Linked DNA regions of Homo sapiens: regions 1 and 3 are each linked to region 2. Evidence: fine-mapped expression QTL. A gene starts in region 2. Each other region holds a variant in brackets. All regions are shown on one strand. Distances are between the middles of the regions.

Region 1 (8,180 bases), 19 kb after region 2:
GCCTGTGTTCCCAGCTGCTTGGGAGGCTGAGGCAGGAGAATTGCTTGAACCTGGGAGGCAGAGGTTGCAGTGAGCCAAGATCACACCACTTGCCCTCCAGCCTGGGCGACAGAGTAAGATTCCGTCTCCAAAAAAAAACAAAAAACAAAAAACAAAAAAAACAAAAAACCGCACACACACACCCACACAAAAACACTGATTGCAGGTCCCAGAATTTCCAAGTCAGGATGTCTGGGGAGGGACCCAAGAATTTGCATCTTTAACAAGCTCCAGATAATTCTGATGCTGCTGGTGAGGGGATTACACTTTTGAGAACCACTAGGGCAGAATTAGAGAGTAAGACTAAAATTCTATGGTGGCAGGTGTATTTATTTCTACCTAGAGGAAAAAGATGAAGGAGCCGGAAGCTATAGCCCAAAAAGAAATATAAAAAGTATATTTATGAGTGCCATCTCAATTTTTTTCATAACAAGGCTGGGCATGAATGAATTCATTAAATCATTTTTTATTTCAACATAGGTGCCAGAACGACACAGTCATTTTCTAGACTTTTTCTTGTATATGCATTCATGTAATTTGCCACCTAGATAATAATAATTCCTAAATCCCTATGCCTAGCTGAGACCATACCTCTGAGCTACTAATCTGTTTTTCCAATAATATCTGGACACCTTGCTGCCCCCTAACACCCTCGGAAATCTCCCTCGGATCCAAACTGAAGTCATTTCCCCTCGAAGTAAATGGCACAGCTGGCCCCTTCACTGCTTAAGCTAGAAGCTCAGGAGTCACCCGTTGTCTCCCTGTTTCTCCCCTTTCCCCTCCCTCCACTTCTCCTAGGGTTGAGGCCTTGACACATCCACCTCTGTCCCCTCCTCCCAGCCTTTTGGGTTCCAGCAGCAGCCGCTCCCCACGATGCTCTCTGCTGGTCAACTGAGATCAGAAACGTGGTCCATGCACTCAGTATCCATTCAACAATATTCAGAGAGCGCACACTCTTTGCCAGACTAAGGAGATTACTTTATAGATATGGTTCCTGCCTTCATGGTGCTCATGATGCAGCTGGGAGGAGACATACAGGACAATGTATTATACACACTGCAGTATATGCTTGAGGGACAGGTACAGCCTCCTAACTGGCCTCCCTGTCTCTAGCCTGGCTCCCATTCAGGGAATCAATCCTCCATGGGTGACCATCGTTCTCTTTCTCAAAAGTAAATCTGCCTGTGTCCCCTCCCTGCGAAATCCCTAGGCTCTCCCCTTGGCCTCAGGAGCAGCCTGGCTCTGGGTCGTGGCCAAGAAGGAGCTTTCCGATTGCTCTGTCTTCCTGCCCTCCAGCCTCCTCTTCTGTGAACTCTGTTTGTAGCCGCCCTGATTAGCATAACTACCCCTCATGTGGCCCCTGGTTCTGTCACTCTTGGTGCCTTTGCACGTTCCCTGGATCCTTCAACCCAAACCACAGGCTGAATTTGGGAGCTCCTCCCACGAGAGCCCACACTCCAGGCTTCTTGTCTTCAAAGTGCTCCTCTGTCTGTATCATGACCGCTTGCTTCTGGTGTGTTCCACATGAGAATAAGGCTCTGTCTTTCATCTCTGCATCCACAGAGATCATTGTGCTTGGCCCACATCAATAATAACAGAAATAACTAAAATTTATTGAGCATTTACTATGTGCCAGACACTGCTCTAAAGGTTTTACGAGGATTATCTCATTCAATCATTATAATAGTCCTAAGGGTAGGTACTATTGGCCTCTCCATTTTACTGATGGGGAAACTGAGGTACAGAGCGATTCAGTAACTTGGACAAAGTACTTCCTAGTCATAGCTAGCAAGTGGGGTAGCCAGGTTTAGAACCCAATAGCTTGAGTTATTAGGTTGGTTCAAAAGTAATCGTGTTTTTTGCCATTAAAAGTAATGGCAAACCATTACATTTTAATGGTAAACCATTAAAATTTTGTACTGCTCTAGAACTGGTTTCTTTTCTTCACTTAAAAAGACATCACTGTTTGGGATTACTTTTTGTTGAGGTGCAACTTTGGTGCTTTAAGGCACACACATCTGAAATATATGGCTGAATGAATTTCTGCACACGATATCTCCATGTACTCACTACCAGATCAAGATATGCAACTTTTCCAGCACACCAGGGGCTCCCCGTGCTCCTCAGTCAATACCCTCTAACCTAACCACTATTCTGCTATCACCATAGAATATTTTGCCCATTTTTGAATTTTGTAGAGATGAAATCATACCATATAAGACTTGGTATTTCTTTTAAAAAATGACAGCTTTACTGAGATAAAATTCACATACCATAAAGTTCACCCTATTAAAGTGTACAGTTGTTTTCAGCATATTCACAGAAGGCTGGAAACATTCCTATCTGGATGAATCTTGCCCAGCCATATATTAAAAAAAAGTGTGAGACATAGTAGGTGTTCAATAAAGGGCAGCTGTTTGAGAACATACTGACTTCTGAACTGGACACTGCATTTGTCCTGATGGTCAGTAACTCAGAGAGAAAAAGAGAGGGTGAGGTGTAGTGGACGTTTTCTTCGTCATACCCCTCTGACTGGGTTCACAGAGGGAGGACCTAAAACCTCAGAGGCAGAGGGTTGAATTGCCCTTCCCCGTCTTCAGGATGTGTTTGGTCAAGGGATTGATTCCACCTACTGTCATTTATTATAAACTGGGTGCTGAGCTGCATTTGCTCAGCGGAGATGAGATGAAAGATGAAGTCTTCCTCTTTGAGAGGCTCCCAGCCAAACAGGGGACACAGACATGTAAATGGCACCATAATCACATGCAGGGTGACCTGTGCAGCGGTCAAGGGACCACATGAGGACTGCTGGGTCCTGGACATGTGTTGTTGCCTGCCCAGCATCCAGTCCTCCTTCATTTGGTGACCACTTCTCTGTTTTCTGTTAGGGAATCACCCCTTCCCCACTCTCAGTCCATTTGGCTTTGATGAGACTGACTGGGCTGAGTGCATGACCCAGGTTTGGCCAATCAGAAATCTGGTTTGACTTGTGCAGGAGGAATACAGGTCGCCATCCAGTCCATTGACTACTGCTGGAACTTTCTGGAAAGGGATGCTTTCTGCCCACCGGGACTGCCAAGCTGGATAAATGCCCAGGGCTGCTAAAGGCCACCACATGTGCAGAGTCCACTGAGAATGAGGCCAGCATAGAAGAAAACAGAACCAAGAGTCGGCAAAACACAGGTTCCTGAGGACATAGTTTGAACACCCAGGTCACTTGTGCTAGAGGCCATGTGTGTCTCCACAGAGCCCCTGAACACCACTGTGTCCCCTTTCCTGCGCACAAGGCGACATGCAGCCGTGGAGAGAATGGGCACAGCAGCGCCGCTTACGAAGAAAGAAAAGTGGAAACACCGAGAAAGTAGCTACAAGATCAGTAAATCCACTATCACTTGTTCATACAATAGACCTCAAAACGACAACAAAAAGGAAGAAATCCTAATCTCATATATCGTGGGGATGAATCTCACAACTAAAATGCTGAGTGAAAAAATAAGCTGCAGACAAAATACACAGTGTGACACTTCAGAAATTCCTTAATTCTTAAAACTAAGACATTTTACCGTGTAAAATAATACTATACATTGTAGTGAAAGTACCAAGAAATGACTAGGAGACCGAATATCCAAATTCAGATCATTTGATTTCTTAGGCTGAGTGGAGGCTACCTAAGTATTCATGATATCACTCATAATACATTTTTTCTCCTTTCAATATTTTATTATGAAAATTCAAACAGCAAAGTTGAAAGAATTGTCCAGCGGACACTCATATATCTACTACTTAGATACTATAATGAACACTTTGCTATGTTTGTGTATCACATATATATCCATCTCCCCATTTTTACAATTTTTTTGAACAGTGTCTTGCTCTGTTCAGAAAAATAAAAAAATATGGGGAGATGGTATATATATATGTGATATATATACGTCCAGGCTGCAGTGCGGTGGCCGATCTTGGCTCACTGTAGCCTCTACCTCCCCAGCTCAAGTGATTCTCCCACCGCAGCCTCCCAAGTAGTAGCCGGGACTAACAGGCGTGCACCACCACACCCGGCTAATTTTTGTGTTTTTGTAGAGACAAGTTCTTGCCTTGTTGCTCACTCTGTTCTTGAATTCCTGGACTTAAGTGATCACCTGCCTTGGCCTCCCAAAGTGCTGGGATTACAGGTGTCAGCCACCATGCCTGGCCTCCCCATATTCCTGATATCTTTTCATAGGTCAGAAATATTTTGTAATTAAACTTTTTTTTTTTAAAGGGGAAGAAACACATAGAGAAAAGCTTATACTTTTAATAGTTAAACTAGTACAGGTCAGAAAACAAATGACGCCTACATATATTACGTGAAGTGCTGCATTTACGCATGATTACTTTTCATAGTAATGATAGCTAAGTAGCCATGTGACAGGCCTTAGAAAGCTAAGGCTGAGAGAAGGCTCTAATCTAATTCTGTTGTTTTACAGATGGGGAGGCTGAGTCTCAGAGAAGTTGTTCACCCAAGCTCATACACTAACTGGCTAAGAAGACAGGGCCTAATTTCTTCTCTTATCCCCCACAATTTGTTTTGGCTCCAGGCCTAAGCACAGATGCAAAATGCTCAGAAGTAAGCGAAGAATCAGGGCAGTTGAGTTGCTGCAGGCAGCAAAACCCACTCTTGGCAGGAAGGGGTGTGGCAGCCTGGCCTTGCTGTGCAAGCCCCCGCGTGTGGCAGCGAACACTCAGGAGCAATACCTGTTGGGTAATGGGGCTGTGGGGAAATCC[C/T]GGCCTGTGTTCAAATAGCTGGTGATGTTGTGTTGAAAGAGGCATTACCAACTGGGTGTGGCTGCTGGTGTGAGGACACATCCTGTCCCACAGAGTCCTTCATGGAAACTCAGAAGGCTAGGTCTTTTTGTTTTCTTCCATTCACGGGTATGATCTTGGTTTGCACTCCAGGACGGAGTTCTCACATGGTGTGACAAGAACAGCAGGGATGGGGGAAGTCACCTGGAATCAGGACTCTGGTCCGAATGCTGGCCTGCCGGGCTGTGCTGCCTAGGATAATTCACTTTCCTTCTCTGGGCCTCCATCTGTTTTCCCATCTGAAAAGTGAGGGGAGATAAAGTAATCTTCATGTTCTCTTCCAGATCCAACTTTCCTTGACTTTAACCATTGCACAAGAGTCTTTTGGAGCCTCGGGTGGGCAGGAGGAGGCCTAAGGGAAAAAGGACTAGACAGTGAGCAGATCTCTAGGGGCCAGGGTGGCTTCTGTCTTAACCAAGGGTCTGTTTGTAGCTCCCATGGGGGCCGGCACACACTGGGTCACAATTAATGTTTTCTCATTTATTGGGGTGAAATGGGGAATGTTGGCCGGGCCGGGCTGACATCTTGGATAACCTCATGTGAAGACTATTCACTTTCAGAAGATGCCGGGATGCACCAGTAAAAAATCCAGAGCGGCTCAAGCCCCTGAACTTTCAGCTGGGGAATAGCCCCAAATCAGCTGACTGTGGCAGTAGGAACCCAGAGAACATAATTGAAGTGAGAATTTATTGCCATCTAGTGTCAGAGTCAGGGATCACAGGAATGATTTCTTCATTTTTCGCTCTTGTTCCAGAAAGGGGATAAAATCCAATTGTACCATTAAAAATACCAGAGAAATCCACTATTTAAAAGACCTATGTGTGTATTTCTCTGTGACATGAATGCTTTTGTAATGTGTATACTATCCTACTAATTAGCCCCTTTTGAAAACTTAGGTAATAAAGGGTTTTGTTTAATATGAATCTTTTGTTAGTAGAAGTTTAGATACCGAAAGACCTTTATCGTTCCTATGTCAAGCTAGTTAAGAAGTGCGCAGTGGCTCACGCCTGTAATCCTAGCACTTTGGGAGGTCAAGGTGGGCGGATCACGAGGTCCGGAGATCGAGACCATCCTGGCTAACACGGTGAAACCCCATCTCTACTAAAAACACAAAAAATTAGCTGGGCGTGGTGGCACGTGCCTGTCATCCCAGCTACTCGGGAGGCTGAGGCAGGAGAATCGCTTGAACCTGGGAGGCGGAGGTTGCTGTGAGCTGAGATCACAGCACTGCACTCCGGCCTGGGCAACAGAGTGAGACTCTGTTTCAAAAAGGACAAAAAAAAAAAAAAGTGCAAGTGGCGCCCTTTAAATAAGGCAAGTCAAATGTTGGATGCTTAGTCCTTCACTTAAGTAATAGTCACCCATAATTGTGTTTTGTGTTTGATGTCATGCTTTAGGTGGAACACATTTATCATCTCGCTTACCCTGACGATTATCCCAGGGAGTAAAAGTGGTTGTCTCTGATTTACTGATCAGACACTAAGAAATGGTCATTAATTTGCTCTGGGAGCACGCAGTCTGTGGTAGCAGCAGGACTCGGACTCTGTTTGTCTCTAATAAGGCCTGCTTTTTGTCTGTTAAACCATACTCCCTTTCCCATAGTAATAAAATCAGCTTCCCATAATGTCCCAGGATACAACTATGTACTTGTACTGTGTGTATAGTACTGGTGGTTAAGACACTGGGTTCTGGCCAGGTGCAGTGGCTTGTGCCTGTAATCCCAGCACTTTGGGAGGACAAGGCAGGCAGATTGCTTGAGCCCAGGAGTTCGAGACCAGCCTGGGCAACATGGCGGAAAACCCCATGTCTACAAAAAATATAAAAATTAGCCGGGTGTGGTGATGCATGTCTGTAGACCCAGCTATTCAGGAGGCTGAGGTGGGAGGATTGCTTGAGCCTGGGAAGTCAAGGCTGCAGTGACCCATGACGGCAGCACTGCCCTCTAGCCCAAGTGAGACCCTGTCTCAAAAAAAAAAAAAAAAAAAAAGATAAGAAATTGGATAAGTTGAGTTTTTGAGCCTTACTATTTGAGTTCCCAGCCATGGCATATTCTATCTGTCTGACATCGGGACAGTTACTTAAGTGCTCCGTGCCTCAGTCTCCCCACCTATAAATGCAAATGATGCTAATGATAGTGCCTACTTCATAGGGTTGTTGTGAGGCTTACTCCATCTGAGGTGCTTAGAACAGTGGCCATGACAGTGAAGTGCTCAATAAATAGTACTTAGAAATTGACTAAATGCAGGGAATTTGAAATGCCAGGCTTGTGAAATGAGCCCTTCTATTGTTGGCCTGCAAAATGTGAGTTTAGAATTTTTTTTTTGACAGGGTCTTACTCCATTGCCCAGGCTGGAGTGCAGTGGCATGATCATAGCTCACTTGCAGCCTTGACCCTCCGGGCTCAAGCGATCCTCCCGCTTAATCCTCTCTTGTAGCTGGAACCACAGGTGCACACCGCTACACCTGGCTCGTGTTTTGATCTTTTCATAGAGACAGGGGTCTCACTATGTTGCCTAGGCTGGTATCAAACTCCTCAGATCAAGTAATCCTTGCACCTCGGCCTGCTGAAGTGTTGGGATTACAGGCATGAGCCACTGTGCCCCGTTGAGTTTGGAATTTTGATTATGAGTGCCTTCAGGTGGGCCTGTGTTTGATTGTGAGTGCCTTCAAGTGGGCCTGTGTTTGATTGTGAGTGCCTTCAGGTGGGCCTGTGTTTGATTGTGAGTGCCTTCAGGTGGGCCTGTGTTTGATTGTGAGTGCCTTCAGGTGGGCCTGTGTTTGATTGTGAGTGCCTTCAGGTGGGCCTGTGTTTGATTGTGAGGTCTTCAGGTGGGCCTGTGGCCTCTAGATTCTCACATTTCCCACCACTCACTTGTGTCTGCTTCTCCATTCATTTAGGCCTCCTGTCTGGCTCCTGGAAGCATTTGGTGTTTTGATCCTTGCAGTGAGTGAGATGAATTACATGGACATTGTCAACCTGATGGAAACTTTGGGCTCTTTGTCGACCTCTTTTAAGGGCTGTGACTTCATGGCTTTGTACATCAAAGAAGATCTTTGGGTTTTCTTGTGCAATTTGGCTTCTCCTGCCGAGAACAGAGGCTCTTCTAGCCAAGAACTAAAGCCCACCATGGCAGTCCCTCCCCAGATTCTTCTGCAGATGGCTACTTTCCTCCTAGCCTTCACGGGAAGGAACCGGGGCTTGCTGAGGTAAGGAGGGGCACAGGAGAGAGGGAGTAAAATCTGCAGAGAGGCAGCCCACACACTCAACCCCTAGAGCCCCTCTGCAGAGAAAGTCTATG
Region 2 (8,180 bases):
GATGAGATGTCTCCAGCTCCCCCTCTTCTCCGCCCACATTCCTGACCATCCAACACACTTTAGCAAGGAAAAGGGATAGAGGAAACAAAACTAGGAGGAAAAGCAGAAGAGAAACTCCTCTAGATTCATGCTGTGCTCAGAAACTGGGGTAGGAGAATGGAAGTCTCCAGGAAGAGCTGTTGATCCCTTCCTGCTCTGGAAGATGCACTTCTATGACTGCCCACCAGCCTCCTCCTCTGGGTGTAACCGAACACCATGGTGGAGCCACACTTCAGAGAAACACACTGCTTGCTTTTAACGTTAAACACATCCTAGCCTGTGGTTTGTGAGCCACATATGGTCCTGGGAGCCCCACGAAATAATGATGAAAGAAAATCGTTGAAATCTGGACACAGAAGCTCTCTGAAGCTATACTTTTCCTCAGTGACTCTGCAAATTGTATTAGCTGTCCAATATTCACTGAGCATTGCCATATGCCCAGTATCATATGGTGTCTCTTGTCTAATCCGCATAACAGCAAGGTTGTTCTTTTTTTTTGGGTGGAGTGCAATGGTGAACAGGGCTCACTGCAGCCTTGACTTTCCAGGCCCAAGTGATCCTCTCACCTCAGCTCCCCAAGTAGCTGGGACTACAGTCACACTCCACCATGCCTGGATAATTTTTTTTTGTATTTTTTGTAGGGACAGGGTTTTGCCTTGTTGCCCAGGCTTGTTTTGAACTCTTGGGCTCAAGCAGTCCATCTGCCTCGGCCTCCCCAAGTACTGGGATTATAGGTGTGAGCCACCACACCTGGCCTAGTGAGGTAGCAATTACTCCTGTCTTATAGCTGAAGATACTGAGGTTCAGAGAGGTCACACTCCAAAGTCAGTCATGGAGCTGAATTTGAACCCAAGTCAGTCTATTCTATAGCCTGTGTCTTAACCATTGTATGTACTATCTCCCAGAGGAAAAGAATGAGAGGGAAATGCTGAAAATATTAACAGTCCCATCGTCCTACTCTCTATTCATTCATTCAGTGCTCAGTAGAGGTAAAAATTGAGAAACCGTCCATTCTCATATCTGGCCTACAGTCTGCTTTTTTTTTTTTCCTGAGACAGGGTCTTGCTCTGTTGCCCAGGCTGGAGTACAGTGGTGCCATCATAGCTCACTATAACCTTGAACTCCCAGGCTCAAGCGATCCTCCTGTCTCAGCCTCCTGAGTGCCACCACATCCAGCTAAATTTTTTTTGGTGGAGTCAGGGTCTTGCTGTTATCTAGGCTGGTCTTGAACTCCTGGCCTCAAGTGATCTTCCTGCCTTGGCCTCCCATAGCGTTGGGATTACAGGTGTGAGGCACTGTACTTGGCCTGGATCAATTTTTAAAAATTTAAATATCATTTAATTATTTTTGATAAGGATCAGATGACTATTTCTCTAAGAAACGGATTAATAATAAGACAGGTCCTTAAAGATGCACCTTACAGAAAGGGTGACCCTGAAATCTAGAGGAGTTTAGGGATACTTCTCAAGGTCACACACTTTGGTAGCACTAAAGGAGTAGGGCTCTTGCTTTCAAGGCCAGATCTTGGCAGCAAGCTGCTTTACCAGTTATCACTGCCTCTGCCCCTAACATGGAGAACTGCTTGAAGGGGGATAACCTCTTTTTGCGCGCTAGAGATTTTAACAACACAACCCGAACTCAGCTGAATAGTTTTTAAACAAGGTTCCTGTGATGAGTGTCTTCTGATTTCTTCTGCTGTCTCCCCGCGCCACAGGTCAGAGACCTGTGCCCTGTTGAACCTAGAGGCTCCTACAATAGCTCCTGGTATTTAGCTGAAGTAGGGTGTTCCTCTCTGTCTGGGGCAGATGGTTGTATTTCTAGTCCAGAACCTGCTATAATTTACTCTGTCCTCCCACACTAATAGCGATTCTTCTATCTGCCAGCTTGGCTTCTATAGCCTTCTGCAATCTGGACCCGCTCCACCCAGTTCATCTCTTTCTTCTCTACATGTAGAACACACCCTCATGGCCAACAGGTGTCCTGGGCTCACCCCATTTCCGCCACAGAAATATCCTCCCTGCTCTCCTCATATGCAAATCATTCTTCAAGGCACTGCTCAAGGTCTTTCTGCCCCCAAAGCCTGCCCATGTACAGGCCAATGGTTTGCTTTCCAAATCTCTTTACATTTATGTTCCCAATTTACCTAAGTTAGCCCTCAACAGGTTTCTGTATATATCTCCAAGTGTAGTGCAGGCTCCTTGAGGGCAGGCACACAAGTGTTCATTCATTCACTGGAGGCTTTTAGCAACACCTTATAAAGCGAGAAAGAAGGAGAAATATAAACTATGGTTGCTTCCAGTCCTCAGGGAGGGGAGACATACCTGGCACACAGTGGGCCCTCAACAAAGGTTTGCTATATTGAACTAACATATATGCCTCTCGTTGCAATTACTTGCTAAGTCCCATGAGAGGTATCAAATGGTGTTATAGGGAAAGCATCATCAAAGAGGTGGCATTTGAACCCTATAGGCTTTAAGGGCAGGGCATGGTTTTGTCTTTGTTTACAGAACTGGGAGGAGGTTACAGACAGAAGAAACAGCATTCCTACTACACACAGTGCCAGGTGCACACAGTGCCAGGCACACATCACTCACCAGAAACTGGGGAAAGCAGTGGAATTGAGTGAGTTCTGTCCCTGCCCCGGCACCAATTAGACTGAGTGAGTGGGCAAGTTGCTTAACTTCCCTGGGCCCCCGTTTCCTTCCCATTCTGAAGTGATTAAGCTGCACAGACTTCAGAAAGAAGCAGACTGAGTGAGGTTCGAATGATGACTATATGTGACCTTGAGCCAATCCGAAGCCGGCTCGCTCAGTCTCAATTTCCTTCCTATAAAATGGGTAAAATAATTTCTACCTCACAGGGCTTTTGTGAGATTTCGAGAACATATGTGAGTCGCTAACCACACAGCCTGGCAATACCAGATTTCCTTTTACAAAAGTAGGGGTGACAACGCTGATCTGCCTCTTTCTGTGTGGCTGCTGCTGCCTCCGCAGCACCCATCCCAGAGGCTGTCAGGAGTAGGGGCCGTGGACAAACTTCATGACCCCGAAAGAGAAAACAGAGCTGAAGGGGCTTCGGGGGGAAAAAGTAAAGAGCTGGCCACAGCAGGCTAACTTGGCTAACGGGGACACTTGGTGAATGCGTCCCCTTGAACAGACTTACCACAGTCGAGAATCTTTGCTAACTCGCATCAACCATGCCTCCCAAGCTGGCTGGATTTTGGACAGCCTTTTTTGTCTCCGCCTTCAAACCCAAGGCAAAGGACAAGGCCCAACCCCATGGCGGGCTGGGAGAGTGAAAGCAGGGGGAGTCCCCCAATTCCCAGCGGAAAGGAAGGGCGATCTGTTCCCACCCGCTGACTCCCACTCCCGGGGCCAGGGCTCCTTGGGCGCCCCCCTTCATTTCTCTCCTCTCCGCACAGGTCGGGAAGGGAGGGGGTCGCGCTTGGCCCGCGGCGCAGGTTCACCCCGGCTTTCGTCCCTCCGACCCCGCCTGGCCGCCCATCCCCGACCCCCGTGGACCCTGCTCGGCCGCCCCGGCTGGGGTCGATCTGGCCCTCCGCCCCCAGCCTGCGTGGAACCCGCCGGGCCGCCAGCCCCACCTCGGCCGCGTCCCCTCCCCTCCGCTCCGCTCTTCTCCCCTCCCCTCGCGGCCACCTCGGTGCCCACCCCGGCCTCCGCAGACCCCGCCGGGACCCCGCCCCGCGCCCAGCCACCCCCGCGCCGGCTTCCCGGCCCCCGTAGACCCCGCCCGGCCCTCCCTCTCCGGGGTCGTGGCGGCGGGGAGGAGGGGCCGCCGGGCCGGCGTGCGTGGCAAGCTCTCCCGGCTCGGCTCGCTCGGCCTCCCTTACCGGGAGGCGGGGTCGGCGCCGCGGCGGCGGAGGCAGGCCCCCTCCTCCCGCCTCCTCGGCCCGGCCTCCTTCCCCGGCCGCGCGTCCTCTCGCCGCTCCGACGCCAGCAGCGCCCGCGTGCCGCTCGCCCAGTCCCGGGGGAGCCCCTGCAAGTTTCCCGGGCCGCGCGCCGCGCTCGCTCGCCTCCCAGCCCGCGGCCCGAGCCGCCGCCGCGCCCGCCATGCCCTCGGCCAAACAAAGGGGCTCCAAGGGCGGCCACGGCGCCGCGAGCCCCTCGGAGAAGGGTGCCCACCCGTCGGGCGGCGCGGATGACGTGGCGAAGAAGCCGCCGCCGGCGCCGCAGCAGCCGCCGCCGCCGCCCGCGCCGCACCCGCAGCAGCACCCGCAGCAGCACCCGCAGAACCAGGCGCACGGCAAGGGCGGCCACCGCGGCGGCGGCGGCGGCGGCGGCAAGTCCTCCTCCTCCTCCTCCGCCTCCGCCGCCGCTGCCGCCGCCGCCGCCTCGTCCTCGGCGTCCTGCTCGCGCAGGCTCGGCAGGGCGCTCAACTTTCTCTTCTACCTCGCCCTGGTGGCGGCGGCCGCTTTCTCGGGCTGGTGCGTCCACCACGTCCTGGAGGAGGTCCAGCAGGTCCGGCGCAGCCACCAGGACTTCTCCCGGCAGAGGGAGGAGCTGGGCCAGGGCTTGCAGGGCGTCGAGCAGAAGGTGGGTACCCCCGGCCCCGCAACTGTCCCCATCGACTGCGGCCTCCGGACCCACGGCCGGGCTCCTTCGTGCTTCCCGACCGGCCCCTAGCGCTGCCTGCCCAGGCCCGGAGGCGGGAGCCGGCCGCTCCTCCTTGGCGGGCCCTGGCCTAGACATCCCACTCCACGCGGCCCCCTAGTTCCGAGGCAGTCCCCAGACCCCCTTTGTTAATGGCTGCGGAGGAATCGGCCCCGAGGGATGGGCCGCCGCGAGGATGCCCAGGCCCGCCTGGCAGGGTGGGCCAAGGGCCTGTCACAGGGCATTAGCGGTGACCTGTAAGGAAGCCGGCAGGCTCCGGGGAGCCCATTCTTTCTGCATTAGGAACCGCTGAATGGGCAGAGCTGTCTGAAAAGGAGGTTGGAAGGGAAGCCAGCGCATCCCTGGAAGCCTCAGGCAAGGCCCCACCTCAGCTCTGCCTGTGGGAGACATCCGAGCGGGGTTTTTAATAGACCCGGAGCTGGCATTCTTACTCATTTGCAGGTCCAAATGAAATACCATCTATCTTTAGGTCCCTTGTCCTGTATTGGACCAGCCTGCCCAGGTGGGCCTTTGACGTAGTCCTACTTCAGCTTTTTTGGGTTTTCTTTTGAGAGGGAGTCTGGCTCTGTCGCCCAGGCTGGAGTGCAGTGGTACGATCTCAGCTCACTGCAACCTCTGCCTCCCAGGTTCCAGCGATTCTCCTGCCTCAGCCTCCTGAGTAGCTGGGATTACAGACATGTGCCACCATACCCAGCTAATTTTTTATTAGTAGTAGAGACAAAGTTTCACCGTATTGGCCAGGCTGGTCTCGAACTTCTGACCTCAAGTGATCCGCCTGCCTCGGCCTCCCAAAGTGCTGGGATTACAGGCGTGAGCCACTGCGCCCGGCCCTACTTCCGCTTTAGGGGAAGAGGAGGGCCAAAAATACTAGATCATACTGGTGAATAATACTTCTAGCCACATTTATATGGTGTTTAGAATGCTTACTCACTCACATATTATCTAATTCTTATAACTACCCTGGGAGGGAGGACTAACAGTTTTGATTTCATTTCCCAGAGCAGAACATTGAGGTTTAGACAGAGGAATGAGTTGACAAAGTCCCCAGCTGGTGAGTGACAGACACACGAGAATGTCTAGGCCACTGCCCTGTTCGTCAAGGGTCCACAGGGGTCCATTTCAGGTATGGATGGACCCAACTCTCAAGGCGAAGGTGCTTAGCTTCCACCCTTCTGTGGTTTTTCCATACCAAGTACAGCCCCTTTGATCTTATTCGCCCTCCACTATGTCATTGCTCAATGAAAGTTGGTTGCAAGACTGAAACAAAAAATCCCGCCACTTCTGATCCCGGAGCCACTGCCTCCTTTTCCCAGCATGCTGTCTGTCCTGCCAAGTTGCTCTCTGCTTTTGTTGAGTGTGCAGGACCAGGAATTTCCTCTTAAGACTGGCAGAGCACGGCCGGGCGTGGTGGCTCACGCCTGTAATCCCGGCACTGTAGGAGGCCGAGGCGGGCGGATCACCTGAGGTCAGAAGTTTGAGAGCAGCCTGGCCAACATGGTGAAACCCTGTGTCTACTAAAAATACAAAAATTAGCGGGGTGTGGTGGCACATGCCTGTAGTCCCAGCTACTCAGGAGGTTGAGGCAGGAGAATTGCTTGAACCCGGGAGGTGGAGGTTGCAGTGAGCGGAAATCCTGCCAGTGCACCCCAGCCGGGGCAACAGAGTGAGACTCCGTCTCAAAAAAAAAAAAAAAAAAAAAAAAGACTGGCAGAGCAACTGGAATGAGTCAGCCTGCTAAACGCTGCAGGCCAAGGGAGGTGACTTTTCTAAGGGAATTAAGTAGGCAGTGCTGCTTTGCCTATCCTGAATGTCAAACCATTCTTAAAAAATAGACATACTGCTGGAGTATAATGACTAGCCTCTGTTTCTTCTCTTTCATCCTCCTACTTACTAGTCAATCATAATATTTATTAAAGTCTGACAGTTGCATGGCTCTGTGTAGGCTTTGTGGGAGGGTATGAAGGAGCAAAAGACACGAATCACTTGTGCAGCGCATAAGGAGGTGTCAGTTGAGGGTAACTCCTGTGAAAGTTCAGAAGAGGGAGGGTGTGGAATTTCGCCTGTATCCCGGTGGCCAGGGTAGTGCCAGCCATCTAGCTGGTGATCGATAAATGTTGAGAGAAGGACTGTGATGAACACCGTGGCAGGGGCACTATTTTGAGCATGTTTGAGAGAGAGGAGGTGGCTACCCTGCCAATGGCAGAGTCACATGTAGGAAATTGTGAGAGAGGGTGGGTTGGAAGTTGAGGCCAAAATAGGGAAGGTCTTGAATCCAGGTTAATTCTCTGTGCTTCTCCCTGCCCCTCACTTAGTCCCTTCTTTTTGCTTCTCACCCCTTCTCCATCACAGCTATGTATATAGATCACTTTCTTCTTTGGGGCTCAGTTTTCCCACCCACACAATGAGAAGAGGGCTCCATCCAGACTTTTAAGAATCCTCATGGCTCTAAAATAATTGAAATAGTGACTTCTCTGTTTTTTATTTCATATTTTATATTTCGTAGAGACAGGGTCTCACTCTGTCACCAGGCTGGAGCGTAGTGGTGTGATCATAGCTCACTGCAGCCTTGAACTCCTGGCCTCAAGTGTTCCTCTTGCCTCAGCCTCACAAGTAGCTGGGACCACAGGCATGCACAAGCACGTCCAGCTATTTATTTATTTTTAAAATTTTTGGTAGAGACAGGGTCTTGCTGTGTTGCTCAGGCTGGTCTCAAACTCCTGGGCTCAAGCAGTCCTCCTGCCTTGGCCTCTCAAAGTGCTGGGATTACAGATGTGAGCCACTGCGCCTGGCTGACCACTTTTCTTTTAATTTAGTAGTGTAATCAAACTATAATTTAATGTGTCATATTTATGGTGCACTTATTACGTGCCAGGCACTATGCAAAGCATTTGAAAATGCATCATCTGCTGACTCTCACAACAACCCCAAGAGGTAAGTACTATTATCAGCCCTCTTTGACAGATGAGAAAAGTGAGAGGCTAAGTAACTGAGCGGTGATATAGCTAGTTAGTGGCTGGGCTAGGATCCAAACTGTTGTCTAACTCCTGGAACACTATTAACCACTCCACTATTTAGCCTAGTACATAGTAGGTGCCCAATAAATGTTCCATTGACTTGAGACTCAGAACATGGCCAGAACAGTGTTAGATTTGCCATAGAATGTGGCCACTCTGTCTGTATCTTTGGGGTGGCCAGTAAATAAATTATTTTGCATTGAGGAACCAGTTGTGTTTGGTTCTCTGACAGCCTAAGTTTGAACCCTTTTATAACTCTTGGTTACTTGTTGGGGGGTGGAGTTTGGTTCATAGCAGGGAAGTATACTTACAGTATTCATAATTACTGTTCACTATGGGTCAGCCATGCTATTAAATGCTTTATAGCCATGATTTCTGTTCTCCCAGCCACCCTCTGAGGCAGGTATCATTTAGTAGTACCATTTTGCAGATGGGGCAGCTGAGGACTGGCTGTGTAACTCATTCAAGGTCACACACAGACCATAAGTTGTGTAGC
Region 3 (8,180 bases), 54 kb before region 2:
GTAAGTTTGAAAGTATTTCCAAATAGAAGGTTAAAAGAGAAGATGACAGGCTGAACTGAAACTTCAAGATTCAAATTCAGAACAGTCCAACCTCTTGCAGTTTTGAAATTCTGATTGTGCCCACTGCTGTGATAGCTTAAATACCACTCTATTACAAGAACTCTTCTAGACAGTCAAACTTGTCCTGATGTCCTTCTTGAACAGTGCCTAAAGAATAAAACAGGAAATAGGCCAGAGCCCTCCAGAAAAGGCAAAATAGATAATCCTTTTTAAGAGTTCATCCCTAGGTGGGTTCCCTTTTCCTAAGTCACTGGGCCATGGTTTACAACCCTCTGTGATCTTAACTCTGCCCACCTTATTCTGCAGTGTTCTCCCACTAACCCTTCATGATCTTCTTTGCGTTCCTCAGACATGCCAAACTTCCTATTTCGGGGCACTCATACCTGCTGTTCTCTGCCCCTGAAATGTTCCTCTCCCTGATCTCCTTGTGGTTGGCTCCCTATTGTCATTCAGATTTGAAATTTAATGTCACCAACTACGAGGTAACCTTCCCTGATTGCTACACTCACTGCATCTAATGAGCCAGCTAGAGCTTAGAACACCGCTAGGGCTAGAGCAGGAGCTCAGTGAGTACAGCTGCATGAACTAATTACGCCACACTCCTATTCATAAGACACCTTGAGTTTTCCTTCTTTTCTGCCTCACTCACATTACTCATATTCCCATTACGCAGTCACTTACAGTACTACACTTGTGTGCATATCTGTCTCCCACTAGATTTTAAGCTGCTGGTGGAAGCGATGACTCTCCTCTCCAATTCCCAGTGCCTACTTCAGTGCATTTGCAAGGCACCAAAAATTCAAACTAGCAAAGACCCACAGTTCCAGGAGGTTAAAGAAACTCACGTGTAGCAAATAACAACAATTACAGCTAACAGTAATTGAGTGCTTATTATTGAGGTAGTAATAAGCACTCAATAACTGTTCTATGATAAGTTCTTTATATATTTTATCTCCTTGAATCCTTATTATAACCTTGTTAGCTAATGTATCAGTATTATCCCCATTTTATAATAAGATCCTGAGGCCCAGAGAGGTTGCGTTACTTGCCCAAGGGTTCACAGCAGTGTAGAGGCACAACTCAAATCCAGGAAGCGGATCCCTAAAACCCATGCTCTCTACCACTCCAGTTTGGCTGGAGAAAATTTGGTGTGCTGCTCATTCTTTCCACTCCCACTCTGCCAAATCCATCTACCCATCACCCTGTGGACACTTGCACATGTGGTAGCAAGCTGATCTTATCCTGGTATGGCTGCTCAAGTGCTATTCTGTGAAGGGCATCACTGAAGGAGTACGTCACCCAAAACAATTCTTCACCACCCCGCTACAGTGACAGAAAATCCTCTAGGAGGGAGCCATTCTTTATGCACCGCAAAATCCCTAGTTAGACCCCACGTATTAGCAAAAAGGTTAACTGCTTACAGTCATAAACATTTTGGAGTGAAATATTCAGATTACCCAGCAGGGCCTTGAGGAATTGAACCCATCCAGTTAAGGTTAGCTCACGCAAAAAAGAAATTTCAAGAAACTTCTAGTGTGTACCATCCTTCAACACTAGATCGAGGTCAGCTGCAAGGACAAGCCTTCACATATGTGTAGTAAAGGGAAGGGAGTCAGAGGACTAAGTCTGGGCTCTAAAGAAAAAAATTGCAGATGATGTGAAAAATTTCCATCTTCTGCAAAATGCTGCTTTAGAATCAGTCTTAAATAGCAGCACTAAAGTTATTCATCCACAGCAAAGCAAAAACCATAGAGCAGAGGGATAGGGGCCCATACCATTCATCTAGACAATACTGGTCTTCATCAAGTTAGAACCAACAAAGAGCTAGATAAAAGCCAACAAGCCAGTCACTGTCCACAAAGCAGATGTTCACGTTACACGTGGCATTACAGCATCAGGGAGAAGGATTCCTGGCACTTTTCACATTTGAAAGCACTCCTCCCACACTTGCTGGTCTGTTTTGTTTTAATACCTGTGCTTCCCCCTCTGGGGCCCTCAACCTCTCACAAAATGGCATTGAAGCTGCTTCCACACATGACTGGGTATCTTCGGCCCTGGGCCTCTTCAAATCAGGCAACTTCCACTGGCTGTCAGGGTGATGCATGAAATCCCTAGAGAAGAGAGGAAAAGGACCACGGCAGGGAGCCTCCTCAAGTGGGAACCACTGAGATTAACTCATTATCCGTTGGCAGGTAAGAAGAGCAAAGTCCCTGACTGGGCTGGTGACCATGGGTGCTGAGACACCCACTGGGGACAAGGACAACTTGTCCAGTTTCTTCACAGTTAAGGTAGCAGGACAACCATCTAAGATTTCCCAAACTTAAGTCGTTTGAGTGCCACTCTTCATGACTATTTCTACGTCTCCCTCCTTACCTTTACTATAATTTAGTAACCGCGTCTCTATCTTGACTAGATTTTTGCATTTAAATATATTTATTTTAAAAGGAAACTCTATCATTGTGAAACTGCTTACTTAATGGAACAGATTTTCTTAATAGTAACGAAAACAAGTAACTATGTTCATCCATATGCCACCTCAAATCATTGCTATTACCCCCAGTGGTGCCACCTACAGTAGCAGCTTTGGGAAGCACAAGCAACACCTGAGGGTTCAGCGTTCGAGCCCAGGCCCAATCGGCTTTTCTCCACCTCTTCCCCTTAACCAAAGGTCCCGGCAAGGGGACGCAGCAGCAGTCTGCACGACCTCACCCACGTCCTCTGGCCGCCCCTCCCCTCCAGCAGCACCAGGTTTCCTGTCAAAACAAACCCTTGGGGGAGGGGACGGCGGAGGCAGAGCTGAGTGCCGGGGAAACCACGGCAACAAATCCCAAACACACGCTGCCGGGCCCGCCCTGCCTCTACCCTGGCTCAGTTCCCTACTCCAGCCCGGCCGAGGAGTGTGGGGGAAGGGGGTGCCCTGGGCCCCTGATGGCGGGATGCCGCTGGTACCTGTCCAGCAGGATTTAAACAGCGGCGAAGCGGCCTCCGAGGCCCGAAGTCCGTGTCCACCCCGACACGCGGGGCGGCCACTCGGTGCCCCGCTCCCCGCTCCCACGCGGGACGGCAGTTCGAGGTCAAACAAGGGGACGCGGAGTGGGAAGACATGAACTAGGAGCCGAGCTTGATGGCCCCTGACCCCGCCTTCCCAGGATGGAGTTCCGAGATAGGGCAGGGGAGCCTTCGGGCTGCAGCGGTGTCCCCTCCGTTGGACCTGGCCGGTCACCTCCGAGCCGGCAACGCCTCCCCCGTGATGGATACGCACCGGGTCCAGCACGTAGACAAGAGGAGAACGGCGACGGAGTGACCCCGGGTCAGGGCTCTCTGGGCGTCCCCTCACCGAGCACAGCACAGTCACCTCGAAAACTCACCAGCCCAACAAACCCCCCCAGCCCCAGTGTCCCCC[C/G]CAACGCGGTATTTAAAGGGCCCTGAGGGACTCTAGGGAGGCAGCCACGGCGCGGCCATCACAAAACCGGATAGCGGGGGGACGACGGCGCGACGGGGCAAGGGGATCCAGGGCCCTTCAGTCTCCGAAAGCCGAGCGCTCACAGACTGAACCTATTAGAGAAACAGTCTTCGTCAGTTTGAACCAGAGAGGCCGAGAACAGCTCGGATGGGAGGGTGTTTCGGATGCGAGAGGGCACGGTTCCCCCGCGCGGCGAGTGGTGCGGTCCGGGCTGCCGGGGGCGGGGTGAGAAGTGTTTACGGAACTGAGGCCGCCGAGCCGACGGGAGCGCCCGGCGTTGGGGGCGGGGCCTGCCAGGGCACTGGGGGCGGGGCCGAGTGGGGGAGCGGGGGCTGAGCGGGGGCTGAGCGGGGGCTGAGCGGGGGCTGAGCGGGGGCTGAGCGGGGGCTGAGCGGGGGCTGAGCGGGGGCTGAGCGGGGGGAGCGGGGGCTGAGCGGGGCTCTGGGGAGGTGGGCGAAGCCGCGGGCCAAGCCTCCAGTGGAGTGCCGGACAGATCCCCTGGGCTTCCAGGCGCACTGGCGTGGACCACACTGCGAGCTCCCGGCCGCGCGTGGAACATTGAGTGCCCGCACACCCCTGTCTAGACGGGGCAATCGGAACTGGGTGCCCACCAACACACTGTCCACACTTACAGAGACAACCCAACCAACAACGCTGCTGGTGGGCTTTCCCACGCACGTCAGCCACTAACCGGGTCATCTCCAGTTGCGTCTACACCTCCACATAAACACGGGTCTAGATTTGCACCTGCACGGGACGATTAGCTCCTTGGAGTCACACCCATCCAGGCCCTCTGAAGACTTGGCGTGCGTGCAAAAGATAAAGCGTCTTACTTCCTCTAGGGTTCTTGGCAGCACCTATCTCCGGGAGAAGTTTCCACCTTGGTTAATGTAAATAACCAGTCCCAGGAGGGCTCTGTGCCGTCTGGCCTGCTGCTCAGCTCCTGCTGTGGGCGTGCTTGAGGGTGTAGAGAAACAAGCTTCCCCCAACTGTTCACATCAAAACTATGCCTTCTGCCAGGTGTAAATCGGTGCTGTATTACTTGGGAAATAGTTTCATGCAGGAACTACTTACATGAAGTTTGTATAGACTAAAGTATTTCTGTTTAGTGCCGAAATTATGTCTGGATTGTGGAGGCAGATTGGCCACCACCGTTCAAAAACAACAACAACAAACAACAGGCAACATTTTAAAGCAGGGTAGAAAGTCAGTTGTTCAGTGGTTACAACACAGACTCCTCTATGGTTCCAGTCCTGGCTCTGACATTCACTATCCATGAGATCTTGGTCTCTGGGGATAACAATGATAGCTATTTCCTTGGGTTATTTTGAGGATAAAGTGAAATAAAGCATGTGAAGTGCTTAGCAGGGTGCACAGTAAGCACTCTAAGTATTAGTTATTGAAATTCTTTGGCAAACCACTGTGGCCAAACTTAGCTGGTGATCTGTATAAATTTGTATCTGTGCCTCCTTTTGCCACTTTCCTCTCTTCTCCTAAAATATACAACCTAATAATACAGGTTAAGAGATTAAATAGAAGGTGCTGTCCCCACCTGAGTTCTTCCCTACAAACATGCTCTTATTTGTGTCATTCGTTGGATAAGTAATCAGAATGACAGAAGCCTCCAATTTCAATTCCTGCCAAATGACAACCACCACACAACTGCCATCACCACCCTAAAAACTCCACAATAGAAAGATGAACACCCAAATCCCCCAAACTTCTGGTAATTCTGTGACAATGACACATGGCAACATTACTTCCTTTGTTAGCTTTGTAAGGATTTAAGTATTGTTTTGAGCTATGACATAAGTTGGAGCAGGTGACCATGAGTCAGGGTAGTTGTCCTTTATACTGGAGTGACCAGCTGCCTGATCCTAGGCATGACACTTCTTTTAAAGTTCAGATATGTAGCTCTCAAAGCCACCAGGAAAGCAGCTTTTGTCAAAGCAAGTTCAACTGTAACATCAGAGAACCAAGCTGAGATAAGAAAAGATGCTGGAAATACTATCTTCTGTTACTTTAATGTTAAATAACTTGCTATCTGAAAACCCTTCTGTGAATTACCTGACCAACTGCCCTTGGCCTGACTTGTGTATAAAAGCACTTTGGGCCAGGCACGGTGGCTCATGCCTGTAATCCAAGCACTTTGGGAGGCCGAGGCAGGTGGATCACAAGGTCAGGAGATCGAGACCATCCTGGCTAACACGGTGAAACCCCGTCTCTACTAAAAATACAAAAAAATTAGCTGGGCGTGGTGGCACGCACCTGTAATCCCAGCTACTCTGGAAGCTGAGGCAGGAGAATCGCTTGAACCTGGGAGGTGGAGGTTGCAGTGAGCCGAGATCACGCCACTTTACTCCGGCCTGGGCGACAGAGCGAGACTCCATCTCAAAACAAAACAAAACAAAAACAACACTTTGAAAAAATGGAGTGCTGTAAAATATAAGGCAGTTCCCTCAAAAATGAGCCTTGTATCACATTGTTGCTCAGAGGGCTCAGACAGTCATAACACAAAATCTTCCCTGCTCAGGTTATGTTTATGGCTTTCTGAGGAAAAAAAAAAAACAACAAAATCTGAAAAGGCAACCTCTTTAGAAGTAAAATAATTAGCATTTTATTTGAAGAAGACATATTATTACACCTAGTTTTTCTAACTTACCTTTTTGAACCACTTAGAGAACTCACAGTAATACAGTTTTTTTTTCTCCCTGTAAATTACACGGTAGACTAAATGTGGTCTATCACTCTTGGCAAAAGACTAAGGGCAGATCAAAATTTTTGTTCGATGAAGAAATAGAAATACTCATTTTCTTTTTACACATCTGAAATCTGAGTTTTAAATTATAATAAATCATTGACAAAAATCTAAAAATGTAATTACAGTTGGATTTGCAACCTCTCAGCCTTATAACTTTTCTAGTGGAGTTGCATATTGTACTGATTTAATGTAATGCAAATTTAGCTATACGGGACTCATCTAGGACAGAATATGAGGAACACAAGAGAATAATTTAAATACTTCCAGTGATCTTGTCCCCTATTTCTCTCTATGGGAGTTGTGAGGCTTCTCTTACTGTGTTTATCTGAGTTTCTGAGCTTCTCATTATGTTCCAAGCTTCTTTCCCACGGCTGGCTTCATGTTCGTGCAGTCTGGGCAGTTGCACAAGGCCCCACCCTTGGAAGAGCCCTGTGCTTGGTTTAATACATTGCTGCTGTTGTGTTGAGATTCTTAATACTGTGCTTTTTGAAAGGGGGCCTTGCATTTTCATTTTGCACTGGACCTGGCAAATTATGTAACTGGTCCTGATCTCCCCACACAGAATATGAGTCTAGTGGTTAAAGGTGCTTATCTTCCTGCCCCTAAGTGCCAATCAATTATTTCAACCAGTGCTCACTTGAAGAAACTTATGTCTGTTTCAATGCTGGAAGAAAAGAAATAGCCCCAAACAAACAAAAAACGACAAAAACTTGGTGTATCCCAGGTCTTATGGCTCATTAAAAAATTTTCAAGAGTAATTTTCACTGCACTTTGACCTCATGGTCTTCCTTAAGAGCCTAACCCCTCCTGTAAGATGTGACTCCATTGTAATTGAAAAAAACAAAAACAAAAAGCAAAAAAATGGGCTGGGCATGGTGGCTCAGGCCTGTAATCTCAGCACTTTGGGAGGCTGAGGTGGGTGGATCACCTGAAGTCATGAGTTCGAGACCAGCCTGACCAACATAGTGAAACCCTGTCTCTACTAAATACAAAAAATTAGCCAGGCATGGTGTGCATACCTCTAATCCCAAATACTTGGGAGGCTGAGGCAGGAGAATCACTTGAACCCAGGAGGCAGAGGTTGCAGTGAGCCAGGATTGCACCATTGCACTCCGGCCTGGGCAACAAGAGTGAAACCTGGTCTCACAAAAAAAAATGGCCGGGCATGGTGGTTCACACCTATAATCCCAGCAGTTTGGGAGGCCGAGGCAGGTGGATAACTTGAGGTCAGGAGTTTGAGACCAGCCTGACCAACATGGCAAAACCTCATCTCTACTAAAAATACAAAAAATTAGTTGGGCGTGGTGGCACACACCTGTAATCCCAGCTACTTGGGAGGCTGAGGCAGGAGAATTGCTTGAACCTGGGGGGCGGAGGTTGCAGTGAGCTGAGATTTCACCACTGCACTCCAGCCTGGGCAACAGAGCGAGACTTTGTCTCAAAAAAAATTTTAAACTAAAAATTAAATTAAAAAAAATGTTTTTCAAAGGAATCCCACTTCTTTTCTCTCCCCTGTCCATCTTCAGGTGCTACAGAAAGGGCCAAAAATCAGTGAGGGGGAAAATACAATAGAAAGCAAAAAGAAGAAAATGAATTTGGCTAATACACCAACTAGAGAATTAGGCCCTGAATGTTCAAAAATTAACTGCATACCTCCTACTCAATTTTACTGTGAGCTCTAAAAATAAGGTCTATTAAAAAAAATTAACCACACCTTTTAGGCAATTTTTTTTTGTTCTATATCCTGTGATTTGGAAGATAAGGTAGATTTAGATAATTGACCAGTTTTGACTATTAATTGATGCTTGAACAATTTTCCAAAGCACCAAAACCAGTTTTCTTTTGACTCCACTGAACTGAATTAGTAAAAAAATTAACAGTTATTTCTCATTTCAA

The links. PIP is the estimated chance that this variant, and not a neighbour inherited with it, causes the effect.
Region 1: its variant is fine-mapped to the expression of CKAP4 in whole blood (TOPMed, PIP above 0.99).
Region 3: its variant is fine-mapped to the expression of CKAP4 in whole blood (TOPMed, PIP above 0.99).

The regions. Positions count from the first base shown.
Region 1 is chr12:106,224,379-106,232,558 of GRCh38, reverse strand. No RefSeq gene overlaps it. Among named protein-coding and RNA genes, the nearest start is that of CKAP4, 20 kb to the left of the region's middle. RefSeq lists a silencer at 8,173-8,180. The variant C/T (reference allele first, on the strand shown) is at 4,804.
Region 2 is chr12:106,243,781-106,251,960 of GRCh38, reverse strand. It overlaps CKAP4 (cytoskeleton associated protein 4), which reads left to right and starts at 3,941. Exons shown (of 2, transcript NM_006825.4): 1 at 3,941-4,592. The coding sequence starts at 4,110. LOC124903008 (a long non-coding RNA gene) reads right to left here and starts at 3,689. Exons shown (of 2, transcript XR_007063443.1): 1 at 3,202-3,689; 2 at 1-2,290. RefSeq lists silencers at 3,366-3,705, 3,736-4,045, 4,706-4,795.
Region 3 is chr12:106,298,084-106,306,263 of GRCh38, reverse strand. TCP11L2 (t-complex 11 like 2) reads right to left here and starts at 3,531. Exons shown (of 10, transcript NM_152772.3): 1 at 3,323-3,531. RefSeq lists enhancers at 3,464-3,603, 3,614-3,693, 2,868-3,753 and a silencer at 3,774-3,893. The variant C/G (reference allele first, on the strand shown) is at 3,464.